Homo sapiens: one gene and its partners. The protein of the gene in region 4 purifies or fractionates together with the protein of the main gene of each other region. This does not show direct contact. Each region holds a gene or a part of one and is shown on either strand. Other genes may lie near its edges.

Region 1 (6,896 bases), on a different chromosome or scaffold from region 4:
CTGGGAGTCAGAATCTTAATTATGTCAGGTAATTAAGCAACCTCTTCTCCCTTCTTACCATAGGCTGGGGGAGAGAGTCGAGGCCCCAGATGGGACTGGAGTATTCTCAGTCCGAATAGTGAACACAGAGTCATCCTCAATCCTCTCTACTCTCGTGGTCTTGAGGGGCCACTGCTACCTCCTCCTGGTCCTGACCTTGAGGCTTCTCAGCACTGGCTTTCTCTGAATTCCTTTTATGCACAAGTAAATCATTCAGCTTCTTCCTGAACAATAAGGATATCTCGTCCAGATACCCCTGTTCCCTGGTTACTCTACTGTTACTGAGCCATGCTGGACCCAGAGGGGAACTCTGCAAAGCTCACCACCTCCCCCAGCTTCCCCAGGGAGAAAGACACACACACCCTCTCCTCTGAGACCTCCAAACCTATGCGGGTATCTGTCATCACTACCACTCCTGCCTCGTACCCGTCCACACCCAAGGACTGTGTTTGGAGAGGCAGATGCATTGAGCTCTAAGCGTTCTTGCATCCTTAACTTTGAAACCATAAAAGCATGTTCTTTTCTTTGATCTCTGCATGTTTAATTTTGTTTTTTGTCATCTCCCTCTTTCGATGCCTCCTGCAATGAATTCTATGTGGGAGGAAGGGAGAGGCAAACATGTACAAGGACACAGAGGTATCCTGGGAGAAACTGTGACTCATACTATAAAATATTAATCTCACTCACTTGTATAGCACCTTGTGCTTTATTTTTATTTATTTATTTATTTATTTATTTATTTATTTATTTTTTGAGGCAGAGTCTCACTCCATCCCGCTGCTGGAGTGCAGTGGCGCAATCTCAGCTCACTGCAACCTCCGCCTCCCAGGTTCAAGCAATTCTCCTGCCTCGGTCTCCCGAGTAGCTGGGACTACAGGCACCTGCCACCACGCATGGCTATTTATTTTTATTTTTTAGTAGAGACGATGTTTCACCATGTTGGGCCTCAAACTCCTGACCTCAAGTGATCTGCCAGCCTCGGCCTCCCAAAGTGCTGGGATTACAGGCATGAGCCACCACACCCAGCCAAAACATGTATTTCTCATGGAATAATTTCATGCACTAGAGCAAGCTAATTGGGAAAGTCAATAGCAAGGAGCAGTAGCAATCGTTTATGAAATAATGATGAGGTGCTGGCACCTGATGCACATTCATAGTCCCATTTAACTCTTCAAGTGAAACTCTCACTTGGCAGGAATTTACTATTAGCCATTTTCCAAATAAGAGATACAGACAAGAGAGTCTCCATCTCTTCTTTGGTGCAAGGAGATTGGTGCAGTCGGTGAGTGGCAAAAGTGGATATGTACCCAGATCTGTCTCCAGTCCAAATTCCAACTCATCACTTCCCTAAAAGTGGTCTATTCTGCCAGGCTGGATAAGGGAAGTGGTTCTGCTTCCAAACTTAATATGTGACAGATAAGGCAATCTAAACCAAAGTCTTCTTGAGCTTGGTCAAACCATATGCTGCCAAGGCTTGAATCCACATAACTGTAACAAGCCATCCCAACTATGCCACAACCCACACACCTCAAAGGCAAGGGAATCCCAGGCAGCAAGGTCCAGGAACAGCCACTCTGGGGAGTCTGCCACCTCTGATATTGCTCCCGTGGCACACACGGTGCCCCATCTGCCTCCAGACCTGCGCTGAAGGAATGGGGGAAAGGGGCAAACTTTGTAGGTGTGGGTGATCCAGTGGTCACTTGAGGTCTCTCAAACAAGGACTCTGTAGATGATGTTAATGGGCCAAACGGAATGCACATCTGCCCTTAAGTGTGTTTCTTTTCTTTCTTTTCTTCTTTCTTTCTTTCTTTTTTTTTTTTTTTTGTTGAGACAGGGTCTGGATCTGTTGCCCAGGCTGGAGTGTAGTGGTGCAATCTTGGCTCACTGCAACCTCCACCTACTGGGTTCAAGTAATTCTTCTGCCTCAAGCCTCCCAAGTAGCTGGAACCACAGGCATGTGCCACCACGCCTGGCTAGTTTTTTGTATTTTAGTAGAGACGGGGCTGGTCTGGAACTCCGGGCCTCAAGTGATCCACCCACCTTGGCCTCCCAAAGTGCTGGGATTACAGCTATGAGCCACCGTGGCTAGCCTTGTTTATTTCTAAATGAGGCTTCCTTTGTGTCTCTACATTTCCTTCTACAAAAAAAACTGCCATGGCACAGGGGCTTATGCCTACAATCCCAGCACTTGGAGAGCCCAAGGCCAGTGGATCACTTGAGTCCAGGAGTTCGAGACCAGCCTGGGTTAACATAGTGAGACCCCAGCTCTACGAAAAATTTAAAAATTAGCCAGCCATGGTGGCATGCACCTGTGGTCCCAGCTATTCGGGAGGCTGAGGTGGGAGGATCACTTGAGCCCAGGAGTTCCAGGCTGCAGTGACGTCTGATCTGGCCACTGCAATCCAGCCTGGGCAACAGAGCAAAGTGCTGTTTTAGAATAAAATACTTTTTAAATAAACTAAAAACAAAACAATGGACCTGGTGTGGGTGGCTCACATCTGTAATCCCAGCACTTTGGGAGGGCAGGTGAGGCAGAATAGGGAATGAGGGTAACCAAGGGTTAAGGCATAAACAAAAGAACAGCAGGTGCAGCCAGTTCTAGGCAAGATTAGGCAGCATAGAGGCCACGTGTTCATTCCCTCAATCAGAGGCTGATTGATGGACGACGGGGGGGGGGGCGGGGGGGAGGGTGACAGCCTCTGATTGACGGGGGGGGGGGGGGGGGCGGGTGCGCGTCTCCACTTCAGCCTCTGATTGGTCACAGGCCAATCCTTCAGAGGGTGTAACCAATCGGAGACCTCTAACGGGCACCTAGGGGCGTTACCTAATTCTTCCAGCTTAATAAAAATCCTAATGGGGGCTCTTGAGCTGTTTGCTCTAGCTTGCTCCTGCTCTGTGAGTTGTACTTTCGCTTCAATAAATCTGTTTCTTCCTTACTTCAGTTTTTTCTTTTGTTTCTTTTCGTTGCTTTGTTCTTTTGTTACTTTGTGCATTGCATTTTGTTCAGTTCTGTGTTCAACAAGCCAAGAACCTGGGCAATCCACGGTCAAGACCTTCCATCCAGTAGCAGAGGCAGGAGGATCCCCTGATGCCAAGAGTTAGAGAGCAGCCGGGGCAACAAAGTGAGACCCTGTCTCTACTATCTATCTATCTATTTTTTAATTATCTGGGCATGGTAGTGCATGCCTGTGGTCTCAGCTACTCCTCAGGCTGAGGTGGGAAGATCCCTTGAGCCCAGGAGTTGAGGCTGCAGTGAGCTATGATGGCACCACTGCACTGCAACCTGGGTGACAAAGCGAGATCTTGTCTCTAAATTAAATTTAAAACAATACCACCAAAACAACAACAGGCTGGGCGGTGGTGTCTCACGCCTGTAATCGGAGCACTTTGGGAGGCCGAAGTGGGAGACCATTTGAGGCCAGGAGTTCGAGAGCAGCCTGGGCAACACAGACCCCACCTCTACAAAAAAATAAAACTGGCCTTGGTGGCGCGCGCCTGTAATCCTAGCTACTTGGGAGGCTGAGGCAGGGGGATTGCTTGAGTCTCGGACGTTGAGGCTGCAGTGAGCTGAGATCGCGCCACTACACTCCAGCCTGGATGACAAACTGAGACCCTATCAGAAAAAACAACAACAAAAAAAAAACAGTGCCCGCTCGGTTTTTCCTGAAACGCGCAGCCCTCGCCTGTAGCCAGGAGAAAACTCCGCGAGCCAGGAAAACACAAACTCGGCCAGGAAACAGCCACCCGGGGGTGCCTGAAGAGGACGCTGCGAGGCGGATTCTTTTTCCGGGCCTGCGGCGAGCGCTTCCGGGGCGGTGGCGACGGAGGCGGAAGTGCGGTGTTTTAGCCGGTGGCTGCTGTCTCTGGGCGGGCCGTGGGAGGCTCCCGAGGTGGGGGCCGGGGCGGGATGGCTGCAGCGGCGGCCGGGGCCGGGAGCGGGCCCTGGGCGGCCCAGGAGAAGCAGTTCCCGCCGGCGCTGCTGAGTTTCTTCATCTACAACCCGCGCTTCGGGCCGCGCGAAGGACAGGTATGCGGAGGGGGCGGCGCGCGGGCGGGCGGCGCCGGTGTTCCCCGGGAAGGTGGCCCTGTGGTTCTGCCCACCTCGAGGGGCACTGACCTAGCCTGCATTGTGCCAGGTGCGAGTCCGGGCAGGGGGCTGCGGCGGGGACCTGACAGCAGGCAGGGACCGCTTCAGGTCCTAGGTCGATGGAATAAAGCCCCGTCGGGTCTATATCACTCCACACCCCAGGTTGAGGCTCTTTGCGCTTTGCTTTGCGTCAGTTCTGGGAAATTAAAATTGAACTTGGCTTTGTTAAGTGGGTAGTCCCCAACTAGAAGCGTGGAACCAGGGTGGCAGACGCTAGCCTTCAAATGATGCAAGCCTGGAGGTCCCTGTAATAGTTTTCGCCCAAATGAGGAAATAAATTAATTTCGGGAGGGGGGTGTGTGTGTGTGTGTGTGTGTGTGTGTGTGTGTGTGTGTGTGTGTGTGGTTTTTCTGAGGTGGGGACGGCGACTTTCTCAAAGGATGTCCGGAGCTGTGTTTTGTTTCCAGCAAGTCAGACTTCTGTTAAAGACTGTCCAGGCTGGGCGCTGTGACTCACGCCTGTAATCCCAGCACTTTAGGAGGCCGAGATGGGAGGATTGCTTGAGGCCAGGGGTTCCAGACCAGCCTGGGCAACATAGCAAGACCCCCAACTCTACAAAAAAAAAAAAAATTGAAAAGTGAGCCGGGCGTGGTGGCACGCACCTGTATTTCCAGTTACTCAGGAGGCTGAGGCCAGAGGATCGCTTGAGCCCAAGTGATTGAGGCTGCAGGTGAGCTGTAATAGCGCCACTGCACTACAGCCTGGGCAGCACAGACCCCATCTCCAGAAAAAGAAAAAAAAGCAACTTGTCAGTTCAAATGGCTGGGAACTGACTGGATTTAATTTTCAGGGAGCTATGTGTCTGCAGATGGGCACACCTTTATTTCTTACAAGCATTGGTGTATTACAAATTAGCACTAGGAAAGAAACCTAGAGACTTGAGTTTTCATAAAAATTACCTGGTGCTACTTCAGATGTGACTTACTGACTATCGAAATTGCCTTTCTGACTGGTGGGCAGTATTTGCACAATGATGAGATCATTCCTGTTCTTCTTCTTATTTTAAATAATAGAGACGTCTCACTGTGTTGCCATGCTGGTCTTGAACTCCTGAGCTCAAGTGATCCTCCCGCCTCAGCCTCTGAAAATACTAGGATTACAATTCCTGTTTTTCTAAAACCGGTTTTTGTTTTGTTTTGTCATTAGCATGTGTGACACAAGAGGTCGACATTGAACTTAGCGTTTTCAATAGCTAAGATGAAATGTTTCTATTCATGTTGTGCTTCTGTTTCCTCATGTTTCAGGAGGAAAATAAGATTTTATTTTATCATCCAAATGAGGTAGAAAAGAATGAGAAGATTAGAAATGTCGGATTGTGTGAAGCTATTGTACAGTTTACAAGGTAATACCTCTAAGTGTGCTTTTAGCGTTCAGTGAATTCTTAAAACTGCTGCTGGAGAATTGTCCCAAACATATTTTTTTAACCTTTGTAGGACATTTAGCCCATCAAAACCTGCAAAATCTTTACATACACAGAAGAACAGACAGTTCTTCAATGAACCAGAAGAAAATTTCTGGATGGTCATGGTATTTACATACACAGTGTATCTTTCTGAAATTGTATGGTGAAGTTATGGGTGATCTTTACTGTTCAGAATTTAGGAAAGTTCTCTGGCTGTTGCATCCAAGTAAAATTAAAATAAAATTGGTTGCAATTTTAAAATCAAGTTCTTCCTATTTGCTTTATTCATTCTTGGGGCTGTTTTAAGAAGCTATGTTTCTGATGCTGTAGCATGTTCAAAGTTTTTAAATTAAGGCAAAATAAACATGGTCTAATGAATTCATTGTATAATTTCAGTTTATCAAACTTTGTAGGTTGTTCGGAATCCTATAATTGAAAAACAGAGTAAAGATGGAAAACCAGTTATTGAATATCAAGAGGAGGAGTTGTTGGTAATGTGTCATTGTTTGTTTATTTATTTATTTTTTTAAATGTATTGCTGAGTATGTTGAATGCCTTACTTGGTCGGATTTAAACTAGGAGGCTTTTGCAGAAGTTTCTCGGGGTATATAGCAAAGGTTTATGTTTATCATTTACATGAGCACAATCTTTTTAAAATGTATATGCACCCAATCTCACTAATACCTTCTACTCTTCATTTATATTGAAAGCCCTCCTAAAGTAAGGCTTACTGATTCACAAATTAGAGTTTAAACACTTCTGGCTGGGAACAGTGGCTCACACCTGTAATCCTAGTACTTTGGGAGGTCAAGGCAGGCAGATTACTTGAGGTCAGGGGTCCGAGACCAGCCTGGCCAATATGGCGGAACCCTGTCTCTACTAAAACTACAAAAACTGGCCAGGGATGGTGGCGCACACCTGTCATCCCGGCTTCTCAGGAGGCTGAGGCAGGAGAATCGCTTGAACCGGGGACGCAAATGTTGCAGTGAGCCAAGATTGTACCACTGCGCTCCAGCCTGGACAACAGAGCGAGACTCCATCTCAAAAAAAAAAAAAAAAGAACGCAAACACTTTTTTTTCAGCACGCAACTATTGTGGGACAAAGTTTATAAACATTATACTGTTTGGCCAAGAGTTAGTGTACCTTTGCCATCTATCCAGTAGACATTGTTTTTCCCTTGAACTGAGCTGTGTGCTGTGTTTTCGCGTCTGCAGGACAAGGTTTATAGCTCGGTGCTGCGGCAGTGCTACAGCATGTACAAGGTAAGCGTGGCGTTCTTTCTCAACTCAGAGTCCAGCCACTTACCC
Region 2 (7,036 bases), on a different chromosome or scaffold from region 4:
TGTCCAGATTCCTCCAGCTTGTCCTTACCCCAGTCCAGGTGCCCACAGAGTGAGCATGTGGACTCGGGCCTGGTGTGTGTATGGTAGGAGAGGGCAGAAGAGCCCCACTGTCTCCCTCTGGTCATTCCTGATCCAGCTGTACCCCCCCTTCTTACCCCTTCCTTCCCTAGAGGACCACAAGCTGGTGTTCCTACAACAGGGCCCACTGTTGCTCGTGGCCATGTCACGGACTTCTCAGTCAGCAGCCCAGCTGCGGGGGGAGCTGCTAGCTGTGCACGCACAGATCGTGAGCACACTTACACGTGCAAGTGTCGCCCGCATCTTCGCACACAAGCAGAACTATGACCTCCGCCGCCTGCTGGCTGGTTCAGAGCGCACACTGGACCGACTTCTGGACAGTATGGAGCAGGACCCAGGAGCCCTGCTCCTGGGTGCCGTGCGCTGTGTGCCCCTTGCCCGCCCGCTGCGAGACGCACTAGGTGCGCTCCTCCGACGTTGCACAGCGCCTGGCCTGGCGCTGTCAGTGCTGGCAGTAGGCGGTCGACTTATAACAGCAGCCCAGGAGCGAAATGTGCTGGCCGAGTGCCGGCTGGACCCAGCTGACCTGCAGTTGCTGCTCGACTGGGTGGGTGCACCAGCCTTTGCGGCGGGTGAGGCTTGGGCACCTGTGTGCCTGCCCCGCTTCAACCCTGATGGTTTTTTCTACGCCTACGTGGCCCGCCTGGATGCTATGCCTGTCTGCCTGCTGCTGCTTGGCACCCAACGTGAAGCCTTCCATGCCATGGCCGCCTGCCGGCGCCTGGTTGAAGATGGGATGCATGCCCTTGGTGCCATGCGTGCCCTTGGGGAGGCTGCCAGCTTCTCTAATGCCTCATCAGCCAGTGCTCCTGCCTACAGCGTGCAGGCTGTCGGGGCGCCGGGCCTCCGGCACTTCCTGTATAAGCCGCTGGACATCCCTGACCACCACCGCCAACTGCCCCAGTTTACCAGGTAGGCCCTGACCCTAAGGCAACTGGCTGGGTGGGAAGGCCTGTCAAACCAGGAAGTTCAGCATCTCAGGGATGTGACTCAGGAGAGATAACCAGCCATGCTTAAGAAAGAGGGAAGAGAACAAGTCTCTGTCTGATGATGGAGCATCAGCCACAGACCTAAAGGAATCCCCCTCTTCTGGTGGACAGCAGGGCCCTAGTACTCAGGGAATCTCCTAGTTTGATGAGGGAAGGTCAGCCTCCAACCCCTGAGAATCCTCAAGTCTCATGGGAGAGGCTCAGCTCCCTAACTTCATTGAAATCTCTAGACTGAGGGAGGAAATGGGCCAGCCAAGAAGGCCCTGGACTAACCTTGTCCTCCACCTCCCTCCATCATGGCAGCCCTGAGCTAGAGGCCCCCTACAGCAGAGAGGAGGAGCGGCAGCGGCTGTCGGACCTGTACCACCGCCTGCATGCTCGTCTCCACAGCACCTCCCGACCCCTGCGCCTCATTTACCACGTGGCTGAGAAGGAGACACTACTGGCCTGGGTAAGTTGGGCAGGGCTCTGAGTGAATTAATTCCCCACTTCAAGCCTCCTTTCCCTATATTGTATCCCCTCCAGCCACAGTGCCTCCACCAAACACAGCAGGCCTCTGGCTGGGCTGTGCCTTGCCTGCAACACTGTCCCTGCCTTTACACACACATCTTTGAAGCCCCTGACAACTAATGACCGTGTCTCTAATCCGACATTAGCCTCACCCTCCTGTGTGCTTCTCCCAGATTAGCAACCAGGACAGTGTCTTTGACTTTCCAGAGGCCCCATTAACTACCACTGCTGTGCCTGCCGATTCCCCAGTAGCCCAATCCATGTGTTTGGAGGCACCCCATTCATCACCAGCTCATTGTGACTCCATGAGTCCCCAGCACTCCTCAGACTACAGGCGTGGTCCCTTGCTGTGCCCTCCACCTGGGGTATCCTTCCCTTTGGTCTCCTCTGGGCTCCAGCCCTCACTTCCTATGGGTTTGCTAAAGGTCAGCTACTAAGGGAGGCCAGTGAAGGAGGCCTCATCAGAAATGGCACCTGCCATGTAATGCATATTTATTAATTTATTGCGTGACTGCTGTGGATCAGGTATTGTCCTAGGCTAAGAATTTTGTTTTTAAATTTTTTTAACTTTCATTTTCAAATAACTTTAGACTTAGAAGCTGCAAAAACAATATAAAGAGTTTTTATATTTATATTTATAAAGAGTTATAAAGGGCGTGGTGAAAACCACGCCTGGTCAGATGGTGGTTTTCCTAACTCCATCATTCTTTCTACATTTATTGGCTGGGATTTTACTATAAAGAGTAACATGGGGCCGGACGTGATGGCTCACGCCTGTAATCCCAGCACTTTGGGAGGCTGAGGCAGGCTGATCACTTGAGGTCAGGAGTTCGAGACCAGCCTGGCAAACATGGCAAAACCCCGTCTCTACTAAAAATACAAAAATTAGCTGGGCGTGGTGGTGCGCACCTGTAGTCCCAGCTATTCATAAGGCTGAGGCAGGAGAATCGCTTGAACCTGGGAGGTGGAGGTTGCCGTGAGCCAAGATCGCGCCACTGCACTCCAGCCTGGGCGACAGAGTAAGACTCCATTTCAAAAACAAAAAGGAATAACTTTTCCTTCTCCTATTTATTGAATTTTTAATTTTCTATCAATATTGTCTCATGGATTTTTCTTTAATTCAGTGAGCTAAAATCCTTCTCTAGCATTTATTTTGGTGTTCAGATTGCCTCTGATTTAGCCGGTGGGTACCCTGATTTAGCCAGGCTGATCCCTGTGTCTCTGACACGTCCCCTTCACTATGTGAGCACATCTTACTTGACTTTCTCTATTCCAGTCCTCAACTCAGCCATTTTTCCATGGAGCCCTTATACCTTTTAGTAGAGATTGGAATTTTAAAACCAAGATATGGGCCAGACACGGTGCCTCACGCCTATAATCCCAGCACTTTGGGAGGCTGAGTCGGGGTGGGAGTTGGGGGGAGTGGGCGGCGAGTCACAAGGTCAGGAGTTCGAGACCAGCCTGGCCAACAGGGTGGAACCCCATCTCTACTAAAAATACAAAAAATTAGCTGGATGTGGTGGCATGCGCTTGTATCCCAGCTACTCGGGAGGCTGAGGCAGGAGAATCGCTTGAACCTGGCAGGCGGAGGTTGCAGTGAGCCGAGACCGTGCCACTGCACTCCAGCCTGGGTAACAGAGTAAGACTCTACGTCAAAAACAAAAAAACAAAAACAAACAAAATATATGTTAGGAGCAGAATTTTAAACCAAGTGATCAGGGTGGCCTCCCTGAGCAGATGGCATCTGAGTGGAGTAGGGAGGTATTGAGCTACGTGGATATTAGGAGGAAGAGTACACCTGGCAGAGGGAAAGGACTGATATGCTATGAGGTGGAACCAAGCCTGGCTATGTTTGAGGAATAGCAAGGAAAGGGTAGAGTGGCCGGAGCAGAGGGAGTGAAGGGGAGCGCTCTGGGAGGTGGCACAGGAAAGGCGCTAGTGACCTTGTGGGGTCAGGCCTCTCCATGTGGTATGAGGCATAAATTGAGTTCCTCTTTATATTATTCCCTGGCTGTAGATGATGAAAACATAGTTGTAGGAGCTTAGAGCAGGACCTTGTACACAATAGGTTACTGACAGAATATTAAACATTGTTACTGTTTTCCCCAGTTCCCAATGAGCAAACAGGTCTAGAGAGTACCCACACACACAACCAGCATCATCCAGTTGAAGTCACTAGGTCCAGCTGAAATTGCACAATATCAGCTTACCTACCTTAGCCCAGTATCTAGGCAGCACCTGGTAGGAGGTGCTGCCAGGTACATGTTCCAGGTTGCAGGAGGCAGACATGCAGCTGCACTGGGGTAGGCAGGATTGTCCATAGCCAGCTCTGGCCCATCTGACTCTGTCTCCTCCGAAACCCCCAGGTGACCTCCAAATTCGAGCTCTATACCTGCCTCAGCCCTCTGGTGACCAAGGCAGGTGCAATCTTGGTAGTGACCAAACTCCTGCGCTGGGTGAAGAAAGAGGAGGACCGGCTCTTCATTCGTTACCCACCCAAGTACTCCACACCACCAGCCACCTCTACGGACCAAGCTGCCCATAATGGCTTGTTCACTGGACTCTGATAGTTGGAGCTCCCAGACCAGGCAGTGCTGGGAGCAACCACCTTTGTTTTTTACCTTCTGTCTACCCTGGAAATGTGTGTGGGGGTGTGTCTGTGGCCAGTCATTGTCTCCCTAAGCAATGGGGCAAGGTCTGAGGGCCCACCGATGAGAGAGATGGTGGCAGCCGCCAGGCGAGCAGGCTGCTTTCCCTGCCCAGTCATGCACCTCCCCCTCTGGGGAAATCCTTAGGCCTCCCTCTCCCTTCCCTCTGTCTCATCTCCTCCACTTGGATGATGCTCTAGCCTCTGTCAGGGACTGTCCCCTCCAAACTTGCTTCCGTGGTCTGCCTCCTAGTTGAATCTCAGCCCTGAGTGTCCAGATCTGGCCAAGGTGTCTAGGGTGGCCCACGGGGGTGCTGGAATTGGCACTTCAGGGCCAGGCTATGCTTGGGACTGGCCTGAGGGTATTTTAAAGAAAAAAACTACATAAAAGGCCTAAAAGTAAGACCCACAAGGATATTCCTTTGCCCTTCTTGTACTTTTTTCATCTTTACCCTGCCAGAAATGACCCGCCCTCAATGCTGGCTGCTGCTAACATTAATGAGAAGGTGGCCTTCAGTGTCCACCTGTGGAACCCAGGACACAGCACCTGACTGCACACAGTGGCTGAAATCCAGCATTTTTACATAGGAGATGCACTTAGCCTCTAAGCCTCGTTTTACTCATCTGTGAAACAGAGATAAGTAACCCTCTCTCATGAACTCTTTGATGAGGATTTGTAAACGAAAACAGACTCGAACTATTGTGTACCACCACATAGCACATGCACGTCTGTCCCAGACTTTGACAACCTGCACAAGACAAGCAGCCTAAAGCAGGAGAGACCTCCCTAGGGTTTTGTGTGTGTGCACACTACCCTCACTCCCCAACTGGCCATTACCCTAGTTCTGCCCTTGTTTGTGGAGTTACAGCCTCAAGGTTGTAGCATGTGTGCTGGCAATCAGGGCCGCAGTGTGTTCTGCGCCTGCCCAGAGCTGACTCCTGATTTAACCGCTGGCGTAACCGCGGGTTGCACGCATGCGTGCTGAAAAGCCTTTCACCCTCACGTGGTTTCTTTTTTAACCAGTCATCAAGCGAGGCTCGCGCGCAGGCCCCGCGTTGGAAAATGGCGGGGAAGCTGAAACCTCTGAATGTGGAGGCGCCAGAAGCTACTGAGGAGGCTGAAGGTAGTGAGGGCAAGTGGGCTGCACTCCTTTCTCTCCAACCAGGGCAGAAAGGAGGGAGGATTCGTCCCATTACAATAATGAAATAATGATATTCTAATTTTTTTAAATAAAATGTTAAGCCTTTTGTTATTGAAGAAAAACAATTTTTTAACCGTTCAGCACAGTGGAGATAAATTAACAGGCATATTCTTATCACCGAGATTAACTTTTGTCAACTGTAGTGTATACGTTGTTGAAAGTAAACAACATGTAGTTCAGTACGAAAGTCTTCAAACAAAAGTGGGGCGGTGGGGATGTTCTCATAACAATCACCGTGCTGCAGCCACCCCTTATTAACAGTAATTCCCAGTGTCGCCATTTCACACCTAACACATATGACACTTTGATGGACTCTTAAACCTCCTAATCGAACATGGCCTCCCCCACAGCCTCTTTTCTCCAGGGTATTGACTTGAATGACAGGCAAAGGAGGGTGGAGGGGTGTCGGCCTAGACACTATTGGAAATTGTATTCCATCCAAAAGAAAAAAAAATCTCAGGCCGGGCACGGAGGCTCACGCCTGTAATCCCAGCACTTTGGGAGGCCGAGGCGGGCGGATCACGAGGTTAGGAGTTCGAGGCCAGCCTGACCAACATGGTGAAACACCATCTCTACTAAAAAACTATATATACATATACATATGTGTGTATGTGTATTTATATGTATGTATGTATGTGTGTGTATATATATATATATGTATATGTGTATATATATATATATGTGTATATATATATATATATACACACACTAATCAGCCGGGCGCGGTGGTGTGGGCCTGTAATCGCAGCTACTCAGGAAGCTGAGGCAGGAGAATCACTTGAACCCGAGAGGCGGAGGTTGCAGTGAGCCGAGATCATGTCACTGCACTCCAGCCTGGGTGACAGAGTGAGACTCCGTCTCAAAAGAAAAAAAATTCTCCCTTGGCCGGGCTTGGTGGCTTATGCCTGTAATCCCAGCACTTTGGAAGGCCGAGGCGGGTGGGTCACCTGAGGTCAGGAGTTTGAGACCAGCCTGGCCAGCATGGCGAAACCTCGTCTCTACTAAAAATACAAAAATTGTCCGGGTGTGGTGGCGGGCGCCTGTAGTCCCAGCTACTGGGGAGGCTGAGGCAGGGGAATTGCTTGAACCCGGGAGGCAGAGGTTATCGTGAGCTGACATTGCGCCACTGCACTCCAGCGCGGAAGACAGAGTGAGCAAAAAAAAAAAAAAAAAAAGAAAAAACAAAAAGAAAAAAATCTCCCAAGGCAGTCATGCATTTGTATGCCACTAGCATTTTTTTGTTATAGAAATATTCAAAGTGTACCAACGTAGAGAAAATAGCTTTAAACAAAGCCCATGTGTACCTATCAGTATGCTTTAACTGTTGTCACCTTTCTGCCCCACTTTTATCTATCTCGAACACCCCTTTCTGCACACTCTTTAAACCACTGTATTAACAAACACATTAGACTGCATCCTGCCAGACCTACCCATACAGACATCAAAGTAATGATTATTGCTTATTGCCTGACCTAGGATGTGAGCTCCATGAGAACAGAGACTGTTTACCTCTCGCTCCCCTGCACCTAAAACAATGCCTGCTTGGTGTAAAGTAAGTGCTCAGTAATTTTTTAATGTGTGACCAATGAAATAACTTCAAGAGCAGAGAG
Region 3 (3,875 bases), on a different chromosome or scaffold from region 4:
TGCTCAAGGAGCCGGCAGACGTGTCATCCTCTCACCTCATACTGGACCCTCCCAAGGAGGATGTGACCGTGTCCCCATCCAGCAAGACCATCACCAGCAAGAAGAAGAAAAAGTAGAGAGACACGAGGACACACACACAGGCTTAGGATGGCACGTGCTGTAAGATTTCCTGAGCATTACAGTTCTTAGCACTGAACTCGTCACAGTGTTTTAACATACCCCTTGGCCCACTGCATCTCAGGTTTCCTACATGGCTGGATTACGGGAGTTCGAGACCAGCCTGGGCAACATAGTGAGACCCCCCCATCTCTGCAAAATTAAAACATCAGCCGACCGTGGTGGTGTGTACATGTGGTTCTAGCTTCTTGGGAGGCTGAGGTGGGAGGATTGCTTGAGCTCAGGAGGTTGAGGCTGCAGTGAGCCATTGCATTCCAGCCTGGGTCACGGAGCTGGTGGCCAGTGTAATCTATAAATAGGCAGCAGGAGAGAGACTCAACACCAAACCAGAATTTTAAAAACTTTTAACAATTTATTAGTCTTATTTTCCAGTAAAATATTCAAATAATGTCAAAAGAATGAAATGATAGCGATATAGCCAACTACCTTTAATTAATTCCACATAAATATTTAAAATCTAAAAACCTCAGATCAGCAGACCGAGTCGAAATCTGATTCTTCAAAGCAAGTATTGCTTTACCCTTGTCCTGAATGCAGTCCGTCATATGACCACTAACTTGCATGTGACCAAATGTTTGCAGAGTGTTTTTTAGATATGCTCTCGGTGAGCCGTCATCCGTCAATCCAAGAAGAAGATGTTGTTGAACTGCGTTGCACAAAGTTTCTTGACCTCTTCTGCAACAAGGACACAACAGTGAGGAAGGAAGAGGCAGTCACTTAAAAGGTTACATAATATATAATTAAATTCTTCTTGGGTAAAATTAGGAAGAGAGATTTGCATTGATTTTGACCTTAAATCCCAGAAGACTAGGCAAGAATTTTTTTTTTTTTTTTTTTGTTTGAGACAGAGTCTTGCTCTGTCACCCAGGCTGGAGTGTAGTGGTGTGATCTTGGCTCACTGCAGCCTCTGCCTCCCAAGTAGCTGGGACTACAGGTGCACACCACCACGCCCTGCTAATGTTTGTATTTTTTGGTAGAGACAGGGTTTCGCCATGTTGGCCAGGCTGGTCTCGAACTCCTAACCTCAAGTGATCCGCCCACCTTGGTCTCCCAAAGTGCTGGGATTACAGGCATGAACCACTGTGCCCAGCCAAGAAATGTTAACAAGTAGAAGAGGGGAAAAAATCCACCTACAAAACCTACCAGGCCTCAGGAGTTTTGAGCCTATCAACACTGCTGCCCGGGGCCTGAGAAACTGCAAAGTGCCCGGGACACCCAGGGGAGGGGGTTAGAAGCACAAGGCTGGTGACACACACCAAGCACAAGGTTGTCATCCTGGGACAACTAATGGAACAACAAAGAAACGGACAGCAACCTTGAGCTGCAGACCAAGTGCTCCGCAGAGGGGTCAGGATTTTGATCTTACCACATTCACAGTTTAGATCAGGCTTGCATTAACTGATGTTTCTAGTGCGCACAATGACTAACACAGGTATTACTAATAAAGAGAAAAATGTAGTATGCCCAAGATACAAGGGGAAAAAAACGCTTACACTGAATTTCCACACAGTGTACACGTGGGGCATCTCCCAAGGGGGCAGCTCTGCCGAGGTGAGGTCCCCTCTCTCCAGGGCAGCCGAGCTATCAGCACCGCAGCTGCCGGGTCACCCCGTGCAGTGGGCAAGGCTGGCCGCTTTGGCGGGAAGGCAGGAGAAAATGTCTGCCTCCTTCTGCCTGTGTACAGAGGGATACTTGTAAACGGCTATGTGAACCCGGCAGCTTCTCCCTACAAAAGATATGTTTTTATCACAGGATATTAAAAAAGGACATTTTGGGCTGGGCAAGGTGGCTCACGCCTGTAATCCCAGCTCTTTGGGAGGCCAGAGGATCACTTGAGGCCTGGAGTTTGAGCCCAGCCTGTGCGACAGAGCAAGACTCTGTTTCAAAAAAAAAAAAGAAATTAGCTGGGTCTGGTGACACATGCCTTGGTGATACATGCCTGTGGTCTCAGCTACTCTAGAGGCTGAGGTGGGAGGACTGCTTGATCCTAGGAGTTGGGGGCTGTGGTGAGCTATGATTGCACCACTGCACTCCAGCCTGTGTGACAAAGTGAGAACCTGTCTCCAAAAAAAGGGGGACATTTCTTAATATAAAGTCATTTTTTTTTTTTTTTAGAATTGTAGAAAATAATTTTCTTTCTGCCATTGCCAAGTTTCCTGTGCTACAGGAAGGTCTTGTCATAGTTTTCCAAGGAACAGAAAATGGATCAAATGTGGAGCAGAGGCACCTGCTTAGAATCTCAACAGTCATGATTTGTTCTATTTACCTATTTTTTAACCATGTTTCTTAATGCAATGAAAAGACAACTTCTCAAATTCTCCTGAAATACCAAATCCTACTTACCATTTACTTCAATCAGGTTTGCATTTTTTTGATTCAAAATAACATAGAGCTCCCGCCGATCAGACTTCTTTCCAACAACCCAGTAATCACTCATGGCCTTCACAATGATCTCCTCATCTTCATCCACTCTGCAAGACGAGGGTCAAAATGCAATTGTTCGTTACTCATACGGCCAGACTGTGAGAATAAGCGTTCCAAACCAAGAACAGGAAATGGAACGGGCGCACGTGGCATTTAAAAGGCTCAGGGAGTGCCGCGCGAGGGAACCGGTGACTTCAGGGCTCCCGGGTCTGTTTGGAAGCGGCGCCCATGAAGGTGGTTCACGCTTGAACCCCATGGAAAGGGCTTGAAGGGATTTTCTGTGTCTTTTCTCGTCTTAGAAAGGGGACGCCTGATTGGAGAAGTGGCTGGAATCACCTGGTAAAGTCACTGTTGATGTCACCGAGAATCTTCATTAAATCCGGGTGCACGGAAGTGAGCGACACGCTGGGCGTTTTCCTCATGTGAACTGTGCTCTTCTCGGCGAGATTCATGTGGTTGAAGTAGATAAACTTAAACTGGGGTTCTTTCTCAGACCTGTGAAAACATGTCACGAAGACAGTAGCACTCGGGCCGGATACAACTAGATTCTTCTTTTAAAATTTTTTTGAGATGGAGTCTTACTGTCGCCCAGGCTGGAGTGCAGTGACACGATCTCGGCTCACTGCAACCTCCGCCTCCCTGGTTCAAGCGATTCTCCTGCCTCAGCCTCCTGAGTAGCTGGGATTACAGGCGCCCGCCACCACGCCCAGCTAATTTTTGTATTTTTAGTAGAGACGGGGTTTCACCATGTTGGCCAGGATGGTCTCGATCTCCTGACCTTGTGATCCACCCGCCTTGGCCTCCCAAAGTGCAGGGATTACAGGCGTGAGCCCCCGCGCCCGGCCCTGGCCCTCTTTTTCTAAACAAAGTTTCACGGGAACCTCGCCATTGCCACATGTTCATGTGCTGTCTGTCTGCTTTCCCACCAAAATGATAGTTGAGTAGTTTTAACACGTATCTACATATAGCCCGTGACATCTGAGATACTTATTATTGGGTCCTTTACCGTAAAAGTCTGCTGACCCCTGCTTGAGGAGAGTAACACCTCGTTCCTCCCACAGTGCGGGGAATGAGTGTCCCGTGGAAATTAACCTGCCTCATGAGGGAAGCCTACGACACTATGTAACGAAGCTTTCCCTCATATCATCCCCAGTGGACATCACTGTAAAACGCAGTCGCCTTTTCCACTGCAGTCTGATGAACATTTTAAATGGGATATACCTTTTTATTTCTTAAACTGACTAGGCAGTGCTACGACGCTGCCTCCCAGGTCA
Region 4 (7,036 bases):
GATGAAACAGACGCCTCTGCATTGATCACGGAAGCATAAGGGATCAAAACATCTGAAACTTTCATATTGGGAAATTTGACAGTAGCTGTCAAGATTAGAAATCTGTATACTTAAGCAGAAAATGCTTCCCTTAAAAAATTGGAAATCTATAAACTTTTTGATTTGACCATTTCATTTCTACTTTTTCTAATTTCTAATTTTTATTATATGGATTATATTGCTGCCTACAAAGATATATGTGTAAAGATGATGATTTTTGCATCATCATTGATAACAAAAAATCATAAGTGACCTTAATATACAAAATTGGGAAATTTGTTAAGTTATAGCGTAAATCATTTGGTGGATTATTATGCAAGTCTTAAAAAGAGGGTGTTGATCTTAAAAGAGTTCCAAGGTAGAGGATTGAGAAAAGCAAGATATCCACAGTGGAGTAAAGTTGTGTGTTTGTGTGTGCTAACAAATGTACACACACACACACACACACACACAGATTCATCTATATGTAATGGTTTGTAAGAAACCTAACACTGATACCTCTAAAGAGGAGGACTGATGATGAATCCATTAGGCAAAGATGAAAGGCTTTTTTTTTACTGTTTGTTTTTACTTTCCTCATGCGTAGTTTTATAATTAATACTTAGAATTAATTATTAACCCAGCAGTGCTTATTTAGGTAATTTTAAAAAGTCACCTACAAAATTCATTGGCACTGGAGAAGTTTCAGTTGGTTGTGAGGAGGATTGAAGGAAGTTGTTAATGTTTTTAATGTTTATTTTTAGAGTAGTGGAGCCTCAGGCAAAGGGAAAGCAACCTACAGAAAAACAAGTCCCAGAGTTATTGGAAAGTAAGGACTGCTGGTGGTGGAGTATTGAGTTTGACTGAGTTTCTAAACTAGGGGCCTTTGCAGTAATCAGTCAGCCTTGTAAGGAATATGAGTGCTTGATTCAGGCCAAGATGTGATGAGTTTATTTTTATTGCCTTATGGCTTTCAATTATGTGGCAGTAATACTCATTTCAAATGCGGAAGTGATTCTGTTACGTAGGCAAAATGGTAGCCACCTTTATTGAGACTTGACTCTGTGCCAGACTCTCTGGTCCTAGCTCCAGGTACAAAATCCAGTTTAATCTTTGCAGCCATCTTGGCAGGTAGAGACATTATTGTTATGCCATTTTACAGATTGGGAGACAGAGTTTCTTAGTGTGTTTGGACTGCTCTAACAAAATACTGTAAACTGGGTGGCTTATAAACAACAAGCATTTACTTCTCGTAGTTCTGAAGCTTGGGATATCCAAGATCAAGGTGCCAGCAGATAGGCTGTCTGGCTGTCTTCTGAGAGCCAGGTCCTCATACATGGTAGGTTCTTGCTGTGTACTCACGTGGCAGGAGCAAACAGACTCCCTTGGGCCTGTTTTATAAGGGTACTAATCCCATTCACAAGGACCTCATGACCTAATCACCTCCCAAAGGCCCTACCTCTTAATACTATCTCAGTGAGGGGTTAGGTTTCAATATTTGAATTTTAGGGGGAGACAAACATTCAGATCATAGCACATAGTTAACTTGCTCAAAGTCAAAGTCAGTTTCTTAAGACAGTCACAGCTATGCCTTTTTTTTTTTTTTTTTTTTTTTTTTTTTTTTTGAGACAGGGTCTTACCCTGTTGTCTAGGCTAGAGTGCAGTGGCGCAGAGTCGTGGCTCACTGAAGCCTCAACCTCCTGGTGGGCTCAGGTGATCTCCCTGCCTCAGGCTCCTGAGTAGCTGGGACTATTGGTGCACACCACCACACTTGGCTAATTTTTAAAATTATTTGTAGAGACGGGGTCTCCCTGTGTCGCCCAGGCTGGTCTCAAACTCCTGGGCTCAAGTGATCCTCCCACCTTGGCCTCCCAGAATGCTGGGATTACAGGTGTGATCCACGAAAGAGCTGCAGTTGGGTGTGAAAAACACTGTTGTGGGTTCAAGTGAGATAACGCATGTGGATAAAGCTCTCCACACAGAGCCTGGCATTCAGCAGGGGCTCCCTGAAGAGTGCTTGTTGTCATTACTATTATTTTTACAGTTTAATAATTGTAACTTTATTCAAAAACAAGTATTTAAAAAATGCCAAAAAATATTTACTGAGTGCTGGTGATGTGCCAGCTTTATAGCTATGTTGTATAATGTGCTTGCTTATCTGATAGGGCAAATCCACCCCATTCTTTCTCTTTTCTGACTGTTCCTAGCCTTTCTTCCTGATTAGCCTCTCAGGTAGAATCTAGTATCAAGTCTATCAAGTTCAGGAGAGAAAAAGAAGAAAAAAAACCACCAGTGGCATTTTGCCTGGATTTGATATCTTTAGGGTGTACTGACGTCTTCCTCTTTTAAAAAGAAGATAGGTCAAAGGGAAAGTAGTTCATGGTTAGCCTCTTAGGTCTGTGATGATGAGGACAGACATGTCTTGTATTAAGGACGGGAAGTATCTGTCAAGGCACTGCCAGGTACCAGGTACTACACTTATTTCTTTTTTTTGAGACGAAGTCTCGCTCTGTTGCCCAGGCTGGAGTGCAGTGGCGCGATCTCGGTTCACTGCAAGCTCCGCCTCCCGGGTTCATGCCATTCTCCTGCCTCAGCCTCCCGAGTAGCTGGGACTACAGGCGCCCGCCACCACGCCCGGCTAATTTTGTTTGTATTTTTAGTAGAGACAGGGTTTCACTGTGTTAGCCAGGATGGTCTTGATCTCCCGACCTCATGATCCGCCCGCCTCAGCCTCCCCAAGTGCTGGTATTACAGGCGTGAGCTGCCAGCCCTATGCTTATTTCTTTACCTTGGCAATTGCATTTCCTCCTCTCACCAATTGACTGACCTATAAAAGCCAGGGGAGACTGAGACCCCTCAGATAATAATGCTGGGTTGAGCCAGCTGCTTCGGTTCCCTTCAGAGCCCTTTATGTAGTGACGTTGCCTCTGGGCTTACAGATGACAGAAGCCCATGGCCTCAGGGAAATGCCGATCAGAGAATACACAACACACAAAAATAACAATAGAATCTGTGTACGGTTGAGATGGAACCTCTAGGGGATTCTAGAGGCTAGAGGAAGAGATCTCCAGTGCTTCTGCCATCTCTTTAGATAAGAGGGTGGAACTTGAGTTGAGCCCTGAAGGGATATTGCCAGCGACCATATAGATAATTTCTGTTAGGTGCTTGGCTGATACTCTTTGGAAGTTGGCATTGTCAGCCCATTCTACAGATGAGGAACAAGGGCTCAGAGACTGTAATAAGGAGGTCTCTTATTCAGAAATAAGAAATAAGACCGCCCAAGGTCACATAGCTAGATACTATGATGCTGGATTTGAATCCAAGTCTCCCCTACTCTAACTTCCTAAAGTCCTTTCATTATACAGAAGACTTAGTTGAGAGGTGGGCAGGGGGTGGTTGGAAGGTAGGAACATGTTTATTTCACTAATGATTTTAGACAAATTGAAGATTTTGTAAGAATTAGTTGCAAGGCAGGTAGACAGGGTGTTGTGAGGACTTTTCTTTGTGAAGCCTGGGCATTTGGGTTTTTGATCTCTAGATCCCTATGCTGGCCAGTATAACTGTCGGCCACCTATGTGACTATTTAAGTTAACATAAAATAAAATAAAAAAAGGATTTTAGTTAATTGCATTAGGCACATTTCAAATGCTCAACAGACACATATTCAATAATGTAGATATAAATATATCCACCATCCTGGAAAATTCTCTTGTGCAGCAAGTCTGAATAAAGGCTTGAATTCCAGCTCTTTTACTTTCTACCTCCATACCTTGGCACTTTATTGAACATGTCTGTGCCTCAGTTTCTTCATCTGTAAAATGGAGATCTCCATAGGACCCACCTCGTGGGGCTGGAATGGTAATTTAATGAGGTAGCATTTCGTACAGTGCTGGGCCCAAAAGTAAGCGTTCTGTAAATATCAGGTATATTATTAGGCATTGTGAGCTACTGATGGTTCTAAAACAGGGCTGTCTTTCGCCAATTAGTGTTTTCTGAAGTTTCATCTAATAGTAGTGTAGGGAAATAATAATACTAGCACCAGTAATGGTGAACTTTTATTTACCATTTGCCAAGGGCTGTGCAAAGTGCCTTTTATGCATTATTATCTCCCTGACTTTCCTGCCACCACTCCGTGACGCAAGACTGAGGTTCAAGATGTCTGTCTGAGTGCTGACAACCAGTGCAGGAAGACAGTAAAGAGAACTGAAATATGACCCATGGCGATTGGATTCTGGGCATGGTTATAATTGGAAAAGGCAGAGGCAAGGGACAAAACTTATAAACAAAGCCCTGAAGAAGCAATCACTGTATTTTCTGATTATGAAAATAATGTATGCTTATGAAACGTATGTGTTATGCAGAAAAATATACCGAAGAAATCAAATCGCAAATTGCTCATAATCCCACGATCTGGAGCTAACTACTCATAAACTTTTGGTGCGTTTGCACCTAGTCTTTTTCCTGTTTGTGTAGGAACGTCGTCATGTACACACTTCTATATCCTGCTTTTTGCAGTTGCAAGAGACATTCTAAAGACCAGTCAGCAGGACATAGAGAAGTGGGGAGTCAAAGATGACTCTGAGTGGCTTGGGGCCTTATTAAGTGGAAGAATGACCTTTCCCAAAGGCAGTGATGCTGGCCCTACGCGGGTTGGGGTGGGTAGAAGGGCGTGTTGGTCTGTTGATTTGTTTCGGGGTGCTGGTGGGAACTCCGGGCAGTAGAAACTCAGGTGAGTTATCAGCTCTGCGGATGCGCATTTGCAGATGGGTCACTGGAAGGTGATAGTTGCTGTGGTGGAAGTGAATTCTGTCTCTCAGGAAGGGTAAAGCAGAAAGAGAAAGGGTAACAGCAGTGCTGCATGAGCCGGGTTCAGGCTGGAGCTCTTCAGTGGGCTAGCCGAGTGACTGGGCAAGTTGATTTTCCTCTTTAAGGCTCAGGTTCTGTTTTGTAAAACAGTGATTCTCCAAGTGTGGTCCAGGGACAACTGGGTATCAGTGAGACTCTTTTATAGGGGGTTCACAACGTCAGAACTGTTTTCACAGTACTACTAAGATGTTATATTCCATTTTTTCATTCTCTCATGAAGGTACAGTCAAATTTTCCAGAAACTACATGGTGTGTGATGATGTCACGGCTCTATGGGCTGTGCATTTTGTTTAAAATTTTCACAGTTTTAATTTCTAACATGGTAACTATCAGTAGATATAATTGATGTTAATAAAAGCTCTTGAGCCTCCTCAGTAATTTTTTAAGCCTATAAAAGCGTCCTGAGGCCACAACATTTGAGAACCACTTCCATAAAATAATGCTGTATAAGTAGTTGAGATCAGATGAAATAAATAAATATATAATAACTGTCCACTAAATCATAGTTACTATTATCTTTTATACTCACTATGGTTACTGACAGCCAGATTTCAGGAGGTAGGAGTGGAGGATCAAGTTGGAGAGAGAAGGGGCATGGAGAGAGGAAGGGAGGAAGGCAGGAGAGTAGAATGTCACGCCTGACCAGGGGGCTCAAGGCTTGGGAGGAGGGAAGGTCGCCAGTGTGAGAGGCTGCACAGTCAGGTGGTCGGGCTCAAGTCTGTGGAGGGGTGGGAGGCAGTGCCATGGTTGTGGGAGGCTTGTGCAGTGTGATTGGGCTGTGAGGGCATTGGAGGTAGCCTGTTGCTGCCCTTCCAGTTAATGGAGAGATGAAAGGAAGGAGGGAGCCTCATTTCCGTTCATCTAAGCAGAGGTTGACTCCTGTAATCTTTTTTTTCTTTCAGTTTTTTTTTTTTTATTATACTTTAAGTTTTAGGGTACATGTGCACAACGTGCAGGTTAGTTACATATGGTATACATGTGCCATGTTGGTGTGCTGCACCCATTAACTCGTCATTTAACATTAGGTATATCTCCTAATGCTATCCCTCCCCTCTCCCCCCACCTCACAACAGGCCCCGGTGTGTGATGTTCCCCTTCCTGTGTCCAAGTGTTCTCATTGTTCAATTCCCACCTATGAGTGAGAACATGCGGTGTTTGGTTTTTTGTCCTTGCGATGCACACGTATGTTTATTGCGGCACTATTCACAATAGCAAAGACTTGGAACCAAGCCAAATGTCCAACAGTGATAGACTGGATTAAGAAAATGTGGCACATATACACCATGGAATACTATGCAGCCATAAAAAAGGTTGAGTTCCTGTCCTTTGTAGGGACATGGGTGAAGCTGGAAACCATCATTCTCAGCAAATTACCGCAAGGACTCCTGTAATCTTTTGAAACTTTTTTACTCCATGTTTGAGGCATGGCCTGGTCTGCATCCCTGGATCCCAGCCCTTACCTGGACATGACAAACCCAGGCTCAGCAGAAGACAGATTTTTTTGTTTGTCTCTTTTTGTTTTGAAGAAGAGAAAAAGAAAACAGGGAGTTTGGGGTTGGTGAAAGAAGGCTGGAGGAGCAAGGGAGGGAAGGGGCTGCTGGCTGGAAAGAGAAAGGAGGGGAGAGTTGCTGCTGTTGCTGACACCTTGAGTTGGGAGCGCATGGAAGTTTTTTCTTTCTTTTAGGTGAACTTTATAAGTAATATGATGCAAATGTCTGGTATTTTTCCTTATACAATATTTTAAAATATCTTTGTGTGCAAAATACACTTATACAAGGTGTATTAGTAGTTTAAAAGGTGCTCTTGAGTGACTTGGGTCACATAATTTGGTTTTAAACTTCTGTTGCTTTATTTTAAACATGGAAACTGTGTGAGCATGAGAGTGGAGTGGGAGAGAGTGGAGTGGCAGAGATCGAGTGTGTATGTGTTTCTTTTTGCCTGTCAGAGAGAGAGAAGTTATTTAGAAATGTCCAGTTGTGTGATATATAGCAGTTTGGTCTAAAGTTGATTGATGTGATACTTCCTTGTTTCTTGACTGTTTTTCTAAGTTATTTTGATAGCTTTGGCTGTTTTTGCAGATTCTGGAATTGGGATGCCATCTTACTGAAGCTTGTTTTGTGAAAGAGAATATGTTAATTATACTTAGACCTGT

What was found.
Region 1: the proteins of KIF16B (region 4) and CCZ1 purify together in Homo sapiens (affinity purification with mass spectrometry, with the first as the bait; 2 studies listed by BioGRID). This does not show direct contact.
Region 2: the proteins of KIF16B (region 4) and MON1B purify together in Homo sapiens (affinity purification with mass spectrometry; 2 studies listed by BioGRID and IntAct, with this or other methods). This does not show direct contact.
Region 3: the proteins of KIF16B (region 4) and CCZ1B purify together in Homo sapiens (co-immunoprecipitation; 2 studies listed by IntAct). This does not show direct contact.

The regions. Positions count from the first base shown.
Region 1 is NC_000007.14:5,894,854-5,901,749, forward strand, and holds the start of CCZ1 (vacuolar fusion protein CCZ1 homolog), read left to right. Parts: upstream 1-3,879; 5' UTR 3,880-3,946; coding exon 3,947-4,066; intron 4,067-5,430; coding exon 5,431-5,528; intron 5,529-5,619; coding exon 5,620-5,713; intron 5,714-6,001; coding exon 6,002-6,079; intron 6,080-6,803; coding exon 6,804-6,851; intron 6,852-6,896. UniProt on the Homo sapiens protein: Acts in concert with MON1A, as a guanine exchange factor (GEF) for RAB7, promotes the exchange of GDP to GTP, converting it from an inactive GDP-bound form into an active GTP-bound form.
Region 2 is NC_000016.10:77,194,165-77,201,200, forward strand, and holds part of MON1B (vacuolar fusion protein MON1 homolog B), read left to right. Parts: intron 1-170; coding exon 171-990; intron 991-1,370; coding exon 1,371-1,518; intron 1,519-3,943; coding exon 3,944-4,144; 3' UTR 4,145-5,287; coding exon of another isoform or gene 5,288-5,348; 3' UTR 5,349-7,036. Other genes in the region: SYCE1L (synaptonemal complex central element protein 1-like), read left to right, coding at 5,288-5,348.
Region 3 is NC_000007.14:6,798,428-6,802,302, forward strand, and holds the end of CCZ1B (vacuolar fusion protein CCZ1 homolog B), read right to left. Parts: intron 3,097-3,875; coding exon 2,938-3,096; intron 2,649-2,937; coding exon 2,521-2,648; intron 853-2,520; coding exon 797-852; 3' UTR 510-796; downstream 1-509. Other genes in the region: RSPH10B2 (radial spoke head 10 homolog B2), read left to right, coding at 1-116.
Region 4 is NC_000020.11:16,563,427-16,570,462, reverse strand, and holds part of KIF16B (kinesin-like protein KIF16B), read left to right. Parts: intron 1-7,036. UniProt on the Homo sapiens protein: Plus end-directed microtubule-dependent motor protein involved in endosome transport and receptor recycling and degradation.